2 linked regions of the Homo sapiens genome follow. The protein of the gene in region 2 interacts with the protein of the main gene of each other region in a pairwise test. Each region holds a gene or a part of one and is shown on either strand. Other genes may lie near its edges.

Region 1 (7,024 bases), on a different chromosome or scaffold from region 2:
GCTCTATCTAAAATTCATAATAAAATTGCCCAGGCACAATGGCTAACACTTGTAATCCCAATACTTTGGGAGGTCAAAATAGACGGATTGCTTGAGTCCAGGAGTTTGAGACCACCTGGGCAACATAGTGAAACCCCGTCTCTACTAAAAATACAAAAATTAGCTGGGCATAGTGGTATATGCCGATAGTCCCAGCTATTCAAGAGGCTGAGTTGGGAGAATCACCTGAGCCCCAAAGGTTGAGGCTGCAGTAAGTGGCAAGATCATGCCACTGCACTCCAGCCTGGACAACCAGTATGAGACCCTGTCAGTAAATAAATAAATAAAATTAATACGAGGCCAGATGTGGTGGCTTACACCTGTAATTCTAGTACTTTGGGAGGCTGAGGCAGGAGGATCCCTTGAGCCCAGGAGTTCAAGACAAGCCTGGGCAACATAGGGAGACCCTGTCTGTAAAAATAGATAAAATAAAAATTAATACTAAAATAACCAGAAGCTTTGTTGAAATAGTAAGGTGAATTAATTTGACAAATACTTTCTAAATGTCTAGCATGCTGCTTTGGAAGAAGAATGTGATAATGTGGATATGAATTATAGAAAATTAAGATGAGGAGTGATGCCTGATCACTAAGTCAGTTTTCATCCTGCAGAGTGGGTTGCAGTGCAGTAAGAGAGTGGGAAGGGAGAGTTAATTGTCACCAGCATTGCTTTCATCATTTGACAAGTGCCTTGCTGTGCAAATACAACCCAGAGGGGTTGTCAGTGGTCTAGCGTTTTAAAAAGCCCTTGGGCAGGGGTTCATTACCTTTATCTTCCTGGTTCCTGCAGTGTGTAAGAGATTCAGCTTCATCAGGAAAGTGTACATGGTGTTGCTGAAGATGTAAGTTTCCCTTTTTTGTGAAGTTGTGATTAAGGGACCTTGAGAAGCGTGCCAGCCCTCTCCCAGGGAGCAGTCACCTGTCCTCCGGATTCATCTGATCAGCCTTCTGCAGATGGGCTCAATGCTACAGCCATGTGTATATACTGCCAAAACCAACTGGAGACACCTTAGTCATGTAGCTTATATAGAGAATGATGTTCCAAGTCTCAAAAATCCTCAAACCCTATTTTCAATAAATGCCTGAAGGCTGACTGCCTCATCCCTATCATAGTCCAGAGATGGAACTGTTGTAAGTATCCTCATAAACTCTGTCCTGCAGCAAAATGGATGTCTCATGAAACACTGAGCTCCCCAAAACACTGAGCTCCCCAAAACACTGAGCTCCCCAGCTTTGCAAACAGTGCCCAAACTTTCTCTACAAATTGAGTTTTCATCAGCCCATCTTCCTTTCAGCAGAGAGATGATATGTTAGAATCCAATGTAATGAAGGATTAAGGGTCATAGTTACAGTGGGTCAAATTTCAACACATTGTCAGCATGTTGACTTGCACCATCGGACACGGTACCCTGGCCTTATTTCTTTCAGGGTTGAACCAACTATGTGCCAACTGCTAGCTGAGGTCATCACCTCCTAGGAAGCAGTCTGTGGGAGGTTGGAGGGTTAACTTTCTGCCTTCTCCGAGGTCTCGCCCCCACATGGCACACTGTATTCTGGCCCCAATGTGTGATCCCATCTCATCTGTATCAGAATGAGTATTGCACAGTATGAGACCAGGTAGTTACATATTTAAGTGCAATGAAAAAATGTTCTTCGAAATGAGGCATTCAAAATATTTTCATTCAAAATGCAAGACTGTTATCCCAAGTTGTCCCTAACACCATATTTTGCATTTGTTTCTCATACCTTGAGGCCACTGCTGACCAGTGGATTTTAGTCTAGATGGGTCTGCTTAGAGCAGAGGGATGCAACTCCATTAACATCAGTGAGTTGGAACTATTCTTCTATTTATAGCCACTTCATTCCATTTTAACTTTATGATCATTACTTTTTAAAATACCATTTTATGAGTTGTTAGTTTTGCGTGTAATTCTCCACCTCCCACCCCCCTCTTATTTTTTCCCATTATTAGAGCCTTATTTGTTAAGAACAAAAAGTAAGTAACAATGCAGACTTGTGGTCACAGTTTCATGAACATACAGCTTTTCACTGGTACCTGAATATTTGCCTTCTGAGTATAATGAATGAATTTAAATGGTCCCTAAAAATGGGTAGACAGTGCCACCTTCTCAAGATGGAGGCTAAGCCAGTATTTAGAAAGCCTCTGCCTGTTGTAACACTTGCTGGCAGGTGTGATGGGCACTTGCTTTCTGTTTTGTGTATCTGGAGCGATTACCACTGCCGAAAGTAGACCAGAGATGGGTTCCTGGGAGGGACCCTTGTGACAGTTCCGAAAGTAGCCATCGTATCAAAGCAACCCTTGACCTAGAGCAGACACTCAAGGCGTGCTGATAAAAGTGTTCAAGGGGCCCCCTTGCTAGTCCCCTCAGCCTCAGTAGTCTCCTATCCTGAACTTGTCTGGATTTCTCAGTTGACAACTACTCATATAATCTTGCAATGGCTTTTCCATTGTTGACTTGCTTACATTGTTACTTAGTTAACTTTTCATCATTTGTACCTCTTCTACAAAGCTAAATCTTAGATCTCTTGAGCACAGGCCTGAGTCCTACACATATCCTTCCCTCACACCACTAGCACAGAAGAAGAAACAGACTGGACTTGGTTTGGAATCCTAGCTCTCCACTGACTAGCACTGACCATGGATAAACTCCTTCACCTCCCTGCTTCATAGTTTCCTTATCTACAGAATAAGGGCAGTCATGCCTGCCTTGCAGGGTGTTACAAGAGCACAGTGCTGGGCACTAGGAGATACTTGGTAAATGGTCATTCTGGCTCACCAAACAAAGCCTCACACACAGAAGCTGAGCAAAATCTTGCAGACTTAAATATGACAAAGCAGGACTGAAACCAGAATGGGAGAAGAGCTAGTTATGAGCTCTTGAACTTTCATGGTGAGGACACCATTTCCTCTGCCCTTGGGCTTAAGTGACAGTTTACAAACCAGATTTTTTATCTATGACTCTTTCATGACCATATGACGATCATTTCAAGCTCAGGAAGTTTCCTAAGCCTCAGTGATCTAAGGAGTGCCATTGATTTGTGATGTGGAGACTTTGCTCATTCACCTCCTTGGTCCAATTCATACATTTAAGCATCAGCTCGTCCCTGAGCGGAGATGCTTTCTCCAGCTCCTTGCAGCCATGTGGCAGAGGGTGACTCCCAGTACTGCTTCCTGATCTACAGATCCCCATGGATGTCCCTGGCTTCTTTAGAAATTTTCTTTACAAGAGGCCACAGTGGAAGATAGTGGTAAGACTTACTTAGACCTACAGCATCAAAAAAAAAAAAAATGGTGATAAGGATGGGAGTATGAGAAAAACTGTGTGAACACTCTGGGGACTGTTGTGGGGTGGGGGGAGGGGGGAGGGATAGCATTAGGAGATATACCTAATGCTAAATGACTAGTTAATGGGTGCAGCACACCAGCATGACACATGTGTACATATGTAACCTGCACATTATGCACATGTACCCTAAAACTTAAAGCATAATAATAATAAAAAAAAAAAGAAAAACTGTGTGAACAGTATAAATAGCATTGAAATTAGTTTCCTACATTTCCCATATAGTGAGCACCTTTGCCAAAACTCAAGAAGTGTCTTATCCACCCTTTTGGCAACTGGCACATTACAGAGGAGCATAGGATCATTACGAGGGCAGGGGTCAACTCTGCATTGATTTCACCATTTCTTTCTTTGTGGTGGAGCCATGTGGCAGTAAAGGAATAGGTCATGTGACATTCTTGTCATCTTCTTCAGTTACCTATAAATACACATTTCCTTGCTTTTTTACTTTCTTTTAAAGATTCTTGGAAGAAAAGGACATAAAACAGATGTATTGTCAGTACTACATTTGCTGAACCTATTACCATGTCAGCTTAGCAGGATACAAAAGTGTCGGTCAGACCTCCTTTTTAATACTGGTACTGTGACACGGGGCAAACAAAGACCCTTGCCTGCCTGCCTTTGATCAGTTGATCGGTTCAGTTAGTTGGTTTACATGATGCCTTGCTCCAAAAGTAACTTGAGACAACACTCTCTAAACATACTGTGTTGTCACCTTGCATACACAGTAGTAGTATGTTAGGACACAGTTTGACTCATGACATATTTGGTAACATACAAGCTTTTAACAAGTATTTACCATGTGAGAGACCCCAGGTTAGATTAGATGCAAGGTTACAAAGACAGACAAAACCATTCCTGATCTGAAGGAGCTTGCTGTCTTATGGTAGAAACAGGCACAATTAGGTATAATAAAAGGGAGATGGCACTGATTGCCCATATAGAATTTATAATGTGGGTCTAGCAGTCATGGCTTTTTGTTTTGTTTTTTTAACCAAATATCTCTGGACTCATCATCTGACAGAAAAATTTAATGTGGAATCTTACTTGAGTACTTTAAAAAGATTAACAATTAAAATCCCGTTCAGTTACATGTCTAAGAAATTTCCGTTACTGGAAAGAATGCAATGATATGAAATCAGTGCTGCCCTGGAGAATCCAGCACGTCTCCTCATCTGGCTATGAGAGCTGAGAGGACAATGTCATTCATTCTCTCTAAGAGGACTGGAGAGCACTCCCAAAGGAGTGAATGTCCAGGTTGAATCTTGAACATCAATTACAGGTCCTTGCAAGAATTTTGGCTCTGTATGCTGCGGTGAGTTTAATACACACAGAAGTCAGCTACAAAGTTTACCAGTTCACCTTGCTGTGCACTCACTCCCCCCGCTAAAATTTTGTATCACTGCTACCATAGCCTCTAGCAAGGACCCCATGATTGCTGCTTTCATTTGATTTGTACAGGATTTGTAGACATGCGTCACCTTCCTGTGTGGTCAGCAGTGCTTGCAAGAACCTAGAGGATGTGTGGTTTTATGTGCAGGGTAAGGAAGCTTACCCTGATGAACACCAGCAAGTTTAATCCATTTCCATCTGAAAAAACAATTGGCCTTAGGCAACATATTCTTAATTGTCTAAGTCATTGTGTGTGAGCAGGCATGCGTGTGGGCACACACGTGTTTGTGTGCATATGCAAGCTGTGCATAAATAGCACACTTTCAATCTTTGTAAAATATAACAGATAAGCAGCAAATGACAGTAGGCTTAGCCCCTGAAGATTTACCAGGAAAAAAAGACAGCTGCATGGCAAAGCTGCTGCTAATAATTAGGGAAGGAATAGCCCATACCCTGTGCCACTCAGCAGCTTCAACCATTTAAATGAGAGCCGGTTTGTTTAACTCTGCAACCCCCATTCATTATGGGCCAGGGGTTGATTTCATCTTGAGCACACCACTTTTGATTGTTGTCATCTCTGGTGAGATAATGAGATCATCATCATCATAAGATCAGGTAGACATGATGACCGAAAGTCTCAAGTAGAAACTGTGATGGATGAGCAAAACAGGAGTTGTTTTAATGTCTCTTTTAACATTGTAAGTGAGGAAAACCTATTTTTACAACTCCCTGGAGTTAGTTTTTTGCAGGGTCACATTGCCATTTTTGTGGTTGACAAGAAAACGTTAAGGCTCTCTTGGGCTCCAGCAAGCTGCAAGAAGTGTCACAACACTCCCCCCTCGTGTAGAATGGCTCTCAACAGGACTGATTGGGAGGGAAATTAATAGGCTCCCCATTGTCACCGTGCATTTTTGCCAGGATATTTCATTAGTGTAAACACTGAACCCGTTGTCATCTTGTTTAGCCACTTGACCCTGGTGATTTTCAATTCTGCCTGTGCTGTGATGGAGTACAACAGTGGCATGCACGAGACAGGCACTAATTATTGGAAGCAGAATCATTGCTGACCCAGTACTACAAGATTAACTGCCCCTTTGCAGTCTTTATTCTGGGACATTAGCACTGTCTGGTTATCTTGCTTCAGTTGAGGGATTCGGGACAATAGCAGTGCTGATGGTAATGTTGGCGATTTCCCTGTTTGTTTTGCAGGTCACAGCCAGGGGCTTTGGGCCGCTGTTACAGTTTGCCTACACTGCCAAGCTGTTACTCAGCAGAGAAAACATCCGCGAGGTCATCCGCTGTGCTGAGTTCCTGCGCATGCACAACCTGGAGGACTCCTGCTTCAGCTTCCTGCAGACCCAGCTCCTGAACAGTGAGGATGGCCTGTTTGTGTGCCGGAAGGATGCTGCGTGCCAGCGCCCACACGAGGACTGCGAGAACTCTGCAGGAGAGGAGGAGGATGAAGAGGAGGAGACGATGGATTCAGAGACGGCCAAGATGGCTTGCCCCAGGGACCAGATGCTTCCAGAGCCCATCAGCTTTGAGGCCGCCGCCATCCCCGTAGCAGAGAAGGAAGAAGCCCTGCTGCCCGAGCCTGACGTGCCCACAGACACCAAGGAGAGCTCAGAAAAGGACGCGTTAACGCAGTACCCCAGATACAAGAAATACCAGCTTGCATGTACCAAGAATGTCTATAATGCATCATCACACAGTACCTCAGGTTTTGCAAGCACATTCCGGGAAGATAACTCTAGCAACAGCCTCAAGCCGGGGCTTGCCAGGGGGCAGATTAAAAGTGAGCCGCCCAGTGAAGAGAATGAGGAAGAGAGCATCACGCTCTGCCTGTCTGGAGATGAGCCTGACGCCAAGGACAGAGCGGGGGATGTCGAGATGGACCGGAAACAGCCCAGCCCTGCCCCTACCCCCACGGCCCCAGCTGGGGCCGCCTGCCTGGAGAGATCCAGGAGCGTGGCCTCGCCCTCCTGCTTAAGGTCTCTGTTCAGCATAACGAAAAGTGTGGAGCTGTCTGGCCTGCCCAGTACATCTCAGCAGCACTTTGCCAGGAGTCCAGCCTGCCCTTTTGACAAGGGGATCACTCAGGGTGACCTTAAAACTGACTACACCCCTTTCACAGGGAATTATGGACAGCCCCACGTGGGCCAGAAGGAGGTGTCCAACTTCACCATGGGGTCGCCCCTCAGGGGGCCTGGGTTGGAGGCTCTCTGTAAA
Region 2 (7,827 bases):
GCTTTTCTCCCTAAGATCAGAAACAAGTCAAGGATGTCCAATCTCACCGCATCTAATTAACATTTTGCTAGAAATTCCATCCAGAGCAATTAGTCAAGAAAAAGAATGAAAGGCAAGCAGATTAGAAAAAAGTAAATCTCTGTTCTCAGATATCATGATCTTGTATGCAGAAATTCCTAAAGATACACACACACACACGGAGATTAGCACTAATGAACACACTCAGCAAGGCTGCAGGATACAAGATCTATATGCAAAAATTAATTCTATGTACATATACCAGCAATGAACTATCCAAAAACGAAATTAAGAAAGCAATTCCACCAAGAAGAGCTTTCAATGGAGGAAAATTAGTCTTTTTAACAAGTAGTGTTGGAACAATTAGACATCAAAATGCAACAGAATGAAGTTGGCTCTTAACTCACCCCATATACAAGAATTAACTCAAAATGGATCACAGATGTAAATTTAAGAGTTAAAACTAGAAAACTCTCAGAAGGAAACAAGGGTATGATCTTCATGATCTTCTAGATTTGACACCAAAGCATGAACAACAACAAAAAACAGATAAATTGTATTTTATCAAATTCTGAAACTTCGGGACTTCAAAGGACACTATAAAGAAAGTTTAGGCCGGGTGAGGTGGCCCACGCCTGTAATCGCAGCACTGTGTGAGGCCGAGGTGGGTGTATCACTTGAGGTCAGGAGTTCCAAGACCAGCCTGACCTCTGCCTCCTGGGATTACAGGCATGAGCCATGGCGCCCCTCTTCATTTCATTACTTTTTTTTTTTTCTGAGATGAAGTCTCACTCTGGCACCCAGGCTGGAGTGCAGTGGGGCGATCTCAACTCACTGCAGCCTCCATCTCCCAGGTTCAAGCAATTCTCCTGCCTCAGCCTCCTGCATAGCTGGGACTACAGGCACGCAACACCATGCCCAGCTAATCTTTGTATTTTTAGTAGAGATGGGGTTTCACCATGTTGGCCAGGCTGGTCTCGAACTCCTGGCCTCAAGTGAGCCACCCACCTCAACCTCCCAAAGTGCTGGGATTACATGAATGAGCCACCAAGCCCAGCTGACCCTCTTCATTTCTATGGTACACTCTCCCTCCACTTATCCTGCCCCTTTTAAAGTTCAGCCCTCCCTGCTCTGCTCCCCTACCCTCATCTCTAAGGTGAACCCTCTTTCCACTGCTCCATCAATTTCTGAGGTCCACCCTCCTTGTTCCTGCTTCTCCTTGCTCCACTCCTGCGCTTCCACATTGAAGCTCAGCTCCCACTGCTCTGCCTCTCCCCCTCTCATTTCTAAAGTGGCCCTTGGCCAGGCGCAGTGGCTCAGGCCCACAATCCCATCATTTTGGGAGGCCGAGCCGGGAGGATTGCTTGAGGCCAGGAGTTCGAGACCAGCCTGGGCAACATAAGGAGACCCAATCTCTACAAAAATTTAAAAATTAGGTGGGCATGGTAGTGAGCACCTGTGGTTCCAGCTACTCGAGAGGCTGAGGTGGTAGGATCACTTGATTGAGCCTGAGAGCTTGAGGCCACAGTGAGCCGTGATCGTGCCACTACACTCCAACCCAGACAACAGTCCCTGACCTTATCTCAAAAATAACTAACTAGGCCGGGGGCGGTGGCTTATGCCTGTAATCCCAGGACTTTGGGAGGCCGAGAAGGGCGGATCACTTGAGACCAGGAGACCAGTCTGGGCAACATGGTGAAACCTCGCTCTACTAAAAAACAAAACAAAACAAAACAAAAAAACAAAAACCTAGACAGGTGTGGTGGCGCGTGCCTGTAGTCCCAGCTACTCTGTCGACTGAGGTGGGAGGATCGCTTGACCCCAGGGGGCGGAGGCTGCACTGAGCCAAGATGATGCCACTGCACACCTGCCTGAGAAACAGAGCAAGCACGTTTCACACACACACACACACCCCTAACTAAAGTAGCCCTTTTCTGTTTTGTCCTCCTTCCCCCATTTCTACAGTTTCCTTCTTCCGTGCTCTGATGCCCTTCTCCATTTCTAAAGTCAGCTTCCATCCTCTCTACTCAGCTCTGCTCACTCCCTATCTGGCTTGGAAAGTCTATTCCCTCCCCTCCTCCCCCATTTCTAAGATGGATAATAGCAGAGGAACTGGTCCAAGTAAAATCCACTTTTTCTGGGTTTGGTGCGAATGGAGGAGGTTAGGGGCCTTGATAAAGGAGTTCTTTTTTCTAAGGTTCCACTCTCCGTGTAGAGGTCTCAGGTTAGAGACTAGAGAGCGCCAGCAAAGAAAGGCTATCCAGAGCGAATAACCACCAGCCAACAAGCAAATAAATGGACCAACCACCCCTTCGAATAACCACCAGCCAACAAAGCAGATACACCAACCCACCAACAACTCCTAGCACTACCACGCCGGGATCCCTAGTAAAATAGCCTAAGGCTTGCTCCTCCGGGCCCTGGAATCTAGTGATTTATGACATCCGCTTGGACTGAGAAGAGCACTTGGCTCCATGTGTTTGAAGGAGGCCAGTAGTTAGGTATCAATTCTTAGGAGAGTAAAATACACGTTAATAGCGGTCTATTTTCTCCGCCTGCCCCTTTCAGCAATCCTTAATCCCCACGCGCTTCTGGTCAGCCTCCCTCAGTTCCCCACCTGAAAGGAGAGGGCTGGAGGTGAGGAGAAAAAGAGGAGAGGAGGGATAGGGGCCAAGTGGTCCCAGGGTTCGTCAGGGTGGGGCAGGTGCGGAGATGCCCTGAAGGGGAAGCCTCTCCTCGAACTGGTGTGTTCCTCCCGACGCCACTTCTAGTAAGCGCTATGCCGAGGTCTTGCGCTCAAGACCAGTGAGCCCAAACTAGTGGAGACTGGGATCCGAGATCTACATACCTAGAGACATATCTAGGAAGTTAACCTTTTTCCGACTGGGATGATTTGGCGGCACTTTTTCAGAAAGCGTTAGCTTCCGAAACGAAGCCATCTTCCCTGCATCATGGCGCCACACACTCCGAGGTAGGGCGCGTGTACCACCCCCTCACCGCGCAGGAGGAGCAGAGTGGTGGACTAACCTGATCCTCCAATCATAGCCTCTCCCTTCGGTGTTGCTAAGCCCCAAGGGGTGGAGCTTGGCGTTACCCCTCACCAAGTCTCCTATCAGGAGCTTGGCTCGCTAGAAGAAAAAAAAAGGAAAGACCCGCCCATCTCCCACCCGATACCCCTTTCTAAAAATATTCTCTCCACCTAGAGCACTATGTAGTTGGCTACAAGTTTCTAGTGTATGTGGTGTTCCGGCCCTTGCCTTTCACAGTTCCTAGGACCCATTTCTCCTCTTTGCTGTTGACATTCATGGCGAATAAAACCTTATAATCTTGACTTAATGGGCTGATGCTCTGCTTCTCTCAAATTCCAAGAGGGAGCACAAATTTAACATCTAGGGAGGATTCACAGGTTTGCAATGCCACACGCTTTCTTTTCTGTCTTTCTTTTCGTTTTTGTTTTTTGTTTTTTGTTTTTTTGAGACACAGTATCTCTTTGTCACCCAGGCTGGCGTGAAGTGGCGCCAACTCCGTTCACTGCAACCTCCGCCTCTGGGGTTCAAGCGATTCTCCCACGTCAGCCTCCCAAGTAGCTGAGATTACAGGAGCGCGCCACCACGCCTGGCTAATTTTTGTGTTTTTAGTAGAGATAGGGTTTCACCATGTTGGCCAGGCTGGTCTCCTGGGCTCAAGTGATCTACCCGTCTGTGCTACCCTCATACCACAGCGCCCACACTTTCCCTCCCTCCCTCTGTCCCTCCCTTCCTTCTTTCCTTCCTTCCTTCCTCCCTCCCTCCCTTCCTCCCTCCCACCCTCTCTTTCTTCTTCCTAACTTCTTTCTTTCCATCTGCCTTGGCATCCCTCCCTCACCGCACCTGGTTATTTCTTTTCCTTCCTTCCTTTCTTCCTTTCTTTCTTTTCTTTCTCTTTCTTTTCTTTCTTTCTTTCTTTTTCTCTTTCTTTCTTTTCCCTTTCTTTCTTTTTTTCTTTCTTTCTCTCTCTCTTTCTTCCTTCCTTCCTCTCTTTCTTTTCCTTCCTTCCTTCCTCCCTCCCTCCCTCCCTTCCTTCCTTCTTCCTAACTTCTCTCTTTCCACCCGCCTCGGCCTTCCTCCCTCACCACACCCGGCTATTCCCTTCCCTTCCCTCCCCTCCCCTCCCCTCCCCTTCCCTTCCCTTCTCTCCCTTGCTTCCTTGCTTCCTTCCTTCCTTTTTTCCTTCCTTCCTTCCTTTCTTTTTCTTTCTTTTCTTTCTTTTCTTTTTTCTTTCTTTCCTCGATCTGTTGCCAAGGTTGGCATGCCTTAACCTCCCAGGCTCCTCTTGGGCTGTAGAGATGGGGATCTCACCATGTTGGCCAAGCTGATCTCAAACTCCTGGCCTCAAGCAATCCTCCCACCTTGGCCTCCCAAAGTGCTGGGATTACAGGCATGAGCCACCATACCCGGCCTGCCACATGCTGTTCAATGACCTTGAAGATGTGTCCATGACATTTCTTAAGAAAAATGTAATTGTTCTTGTTATCACCTAATACTGCTCAATCAAATGCTACTTTAAAATATTAGAGAAATCTTGTCACTGGCTCTTCAGTAGAAATAAAAATCAAATTAATACATTTTCAAAGGTAAAAATATGTTCAAGCTATTACAGAATCCACAACATAAATAAATGCCGGAAGAGATTTTGAAAAATGTAAATTATTTAACTATTTATTGTATTTAAGTAAATGCTTCGCACCTGGGACCTAAAGATTAATAAATAAATCTGTTTCTCCATGCATATACAATTGCCTGAAGACAATAAATGCATGCAAAATATTAATTTAGGTGCTGTAATTTAGTCTGTCAACAAATACTGAGCTCCTGCTGTGTTAGGTTCTGAGGATACAGGTATGTACAAAATGTATTTGGGATTCAAAGGAGAAAATTCACCCAAGGAATCAAGAAAAAATTATTTAAATCCTGAGAAATTAGGGAATAATTGTAGGGGTGGGAATGGTATTTCTTGGCAGAGGAAGCAGCACCACTAACACACTGTGGAAAGTTCTATTCATTCCATGTGGTGGGTACTGAGAGATGAGTCTAAAGAGATCAACAGATATTAGATCATGGAGTGACTTTTATAATATATTATGCTAATGGTTTGGGCCTTTTTTTCTGTCAGATTTATTTTTCTGTCAGGTATGAAGTGAGAATGAAAGAGGATCAAAGATAGAACCCCAAGAAAATTAAAAAGAACATTGAGTAGAAAATATCAGAGAGATATGGGTAGAACCAGGAAAGAGGTATTCATTTATTAAGGGAGAACTCCAGGAGGAACCGACGGGTCCATCTTGTCAAGGGTTGATAGAAAGTCAAATAAGCTAAGAACTGATTAATTCATTAAATTTAGTAATTATGAGATCCGGTTTTTACCTTCAGCAGAGTTCTAGCAGGCTATAAACTGATAAACAACTAATTTTTATTTAACAAACACATAAAGCATTTACTATCTGCCCGGCATTGTTCTGAGAGCTTTACAAATATTCAATAATTTAATCTTCACAATAACCCCATGAGAAATAATATTATCTCCTTTTACCAGCAAGGAAAAGAAGGCACAAAGACATTTAAAAAATTGCCCAAGGACACAGAGCTGGTAAATGTTGCAATTACTTCAAACCCATGCAGTTCAGCTCTAAAAATCACGCTTGTAACTACTACCTTTACACAAGGTAGTATAGGGTGGTTTTTTTTTAATTATACTTTAAGTTTTAGGGTACATGTGCACAACGTGCAACTTTGTTACATATGTATACATGTGCCATGTTGGTGTGCTACACCCATTAACTCGTCATTTACATTAGGTATATCTCCTAATGCTATCCCTCCCCCCTCCCCCCACCCCACAACAGGCCCCATAGTGTGATGTGCCCCTTCCTGTGTCCATGTGTTTTCATTGTTCAATTCCCACCTATGAGTGAGAACATGCAGTGTTTGGTTTTCTGTCCTTGCAATAGTTTGCTGAGAATGATGGTTTCCAGCTTCATCCATGTCCCTACAAAGGACATGAGGGTAGTTTTTTTTTAATGGAAGAGATTAAATTAAACATGCTTATAGGTCATGAGAAAGGAGCTAGCAAAGAGAGACACATTAGAAATAAAGAAAAGGGAGGCCGGCCCAGTGGCTAACACCTGTAATCCCAGCACTTTGGGAGGCCAAGACAGGCAGATCACTTGAGGTCAGGAATTCCAGACCAGCCTGGCCAACATGGTGAAACCCCAACTGTACCAAAAATACACAAATTAGCCGTGCATGGTGGTGTGCGCCTGTAATCCCAGCTGCTTGGGAAGCTGAGGCAGGAGAATTGCTTGAACACAGGAGGCAGAGATTGCAGTGAGCTGAGATTGCACCACCACACTCCAGCCTGGGCGACAGAGCCAGACTCTGTTTCAAATAAATAAATTAAATTAATAAATAAAAATAAACAAAAGGAAGTAAGGAAATAATCAATGAATTTCCTTTCTCCCTAGGTTTCAGAATTGAGCCATAGTAGAGATGGGACCAGGAGATAACTTTGAAAGACATCGTGCTTTGCTTGAAATTGCTTGTTATTTGATTAATTTGATCTTGCATAACTTTCACTTCTCTTAGTTGAACTTCTCTGCCTTCATTCAAATAGGTTCTCTCAAATTCGAAGAATGAGCACAAATCTAGCATCCAGGGACAGACTTGCAAAACCACGCAGAAACCAAAGTGAGCCTTTTAAAACATCAGTCTTGGCGTGGTGCTCATGCCTGTAATCTCAGCACTTTGAGAGGTTGAGGCGGGAGGATCCCTTGAGCCCTGGAGTTCGAGGTCAGCCAACAAAGTGACAACAATGTGAGACCCCGTCTCTACAAAAAATTAAAAAATTAGCCAGGCGTAGTGGTGCATACCTGTGGTCCCAGCTACTCAGGAGGCTGAGATGGGGGGATCGCTTGAGCCAGGGAGGCAGAGGCTGCAGTGAGCCATTATCTCACCACTGCAACTCCAATCTGAGAGACAGAGCAAGATCCTGTCTCAAACAAAACAAAACAAAACAGCAGGGACAGTGTGGAATTCTGGCAACAGCAGTGGCAACAGCAAAAGCCAGTTTCTTGAGGCAGCAATGGCAGTGTTGCAAATCACAGTATCTAGTGTGTGGCAGTGGTGGCCTCTTCAGATTCGTTTTGATGTGTGATTTTAGCTAATACTATAAATTTCTCACCTCTCTTGGTTCCTGCACTTTTTCCTGAGCTTGATTCTTTAGACGTCATGGCTATTCCTTGAGCTATGTAACATAACAGGCTTTCAATAAATTTCTTCTATGCTTAAAGCAGCTAGGATTTGTCACATTCAACTAAGAACTCTTTCTATTGGCATCAAGAGAAATATAAAGGAGACAATTCATTGCTTTTTGCTTCAGTTTTGGGCACCAGTTGTTACCGGACAAACTGCAGTGAAACCAAAGAAAATCAACCAGGTTTGTGAGGAGATTTAAATCATGTCATCTGAAGCATGGTTGAAGAAATTTTGCCCGTAGAACAGAAATCTCAGGGGACCATAATAACTGTCTTCAAATAATTTTATGGAAGAGGGAGTGAATTTATTATTCGGTCTGGCAGGAGAGGGCAGCATTATCCCAAGTTGACCCAAATTACAGGAAAACAGATTTCTGCACTATATAGAGACAAACTTTCTAATAATGAAAACTAAAACAATGGGACGAAACTACAACAGGAGAAGCTGCATTGAACTGACATACTTGACACTGTGAATATTAAAGCAGAAGCTAGATTACTGCCTACTTCAATGAGTTAGG

The links. Proteins that work in one complex are often made in the same cells at the same time.
Region 1: the proteins of LUZP4 (region 2) and BACH2 interact in binary tests that used the Homo sapiens proteins (3 or more experiments, as listed by UniProt).

What each region holds. Positions count from the first base shown.
Region 1 is NC_000006.12:89,950,843-89,957,866, reverse strand, and holds part of BACH2 (transcription regulator protein BACH2), read left to right. Parts: intron 1-6,004; coding exon 6,005-7,024. UniProt on the Homo sapiens protein: Transcriptional regulator that acts as a repressor or activator. Binds to Maf recognition elements (MARE). Plays an important role in coordinating transcription activation and repression by MAFK.
Region 2 is NC_000023.11:115,284,890-115,292,716, reverse strand, and holds the start of LUZP4 (leucine zipper protein 4), read right to left. Parts: upstream 3,003-7,827; 5' UTR 2,958-3,002; coding exon 2,867-2,957; intron 1-2,866. UniProt on the Homo sapiens protein: Export adapter involved in mRNA nuclear export in cancer cells. Binds and enhances the RNA-binding activity of the nuclear RNA export factor NXF1. Can restore mRNA export function in cells compromised by loss of mRNA export adapters.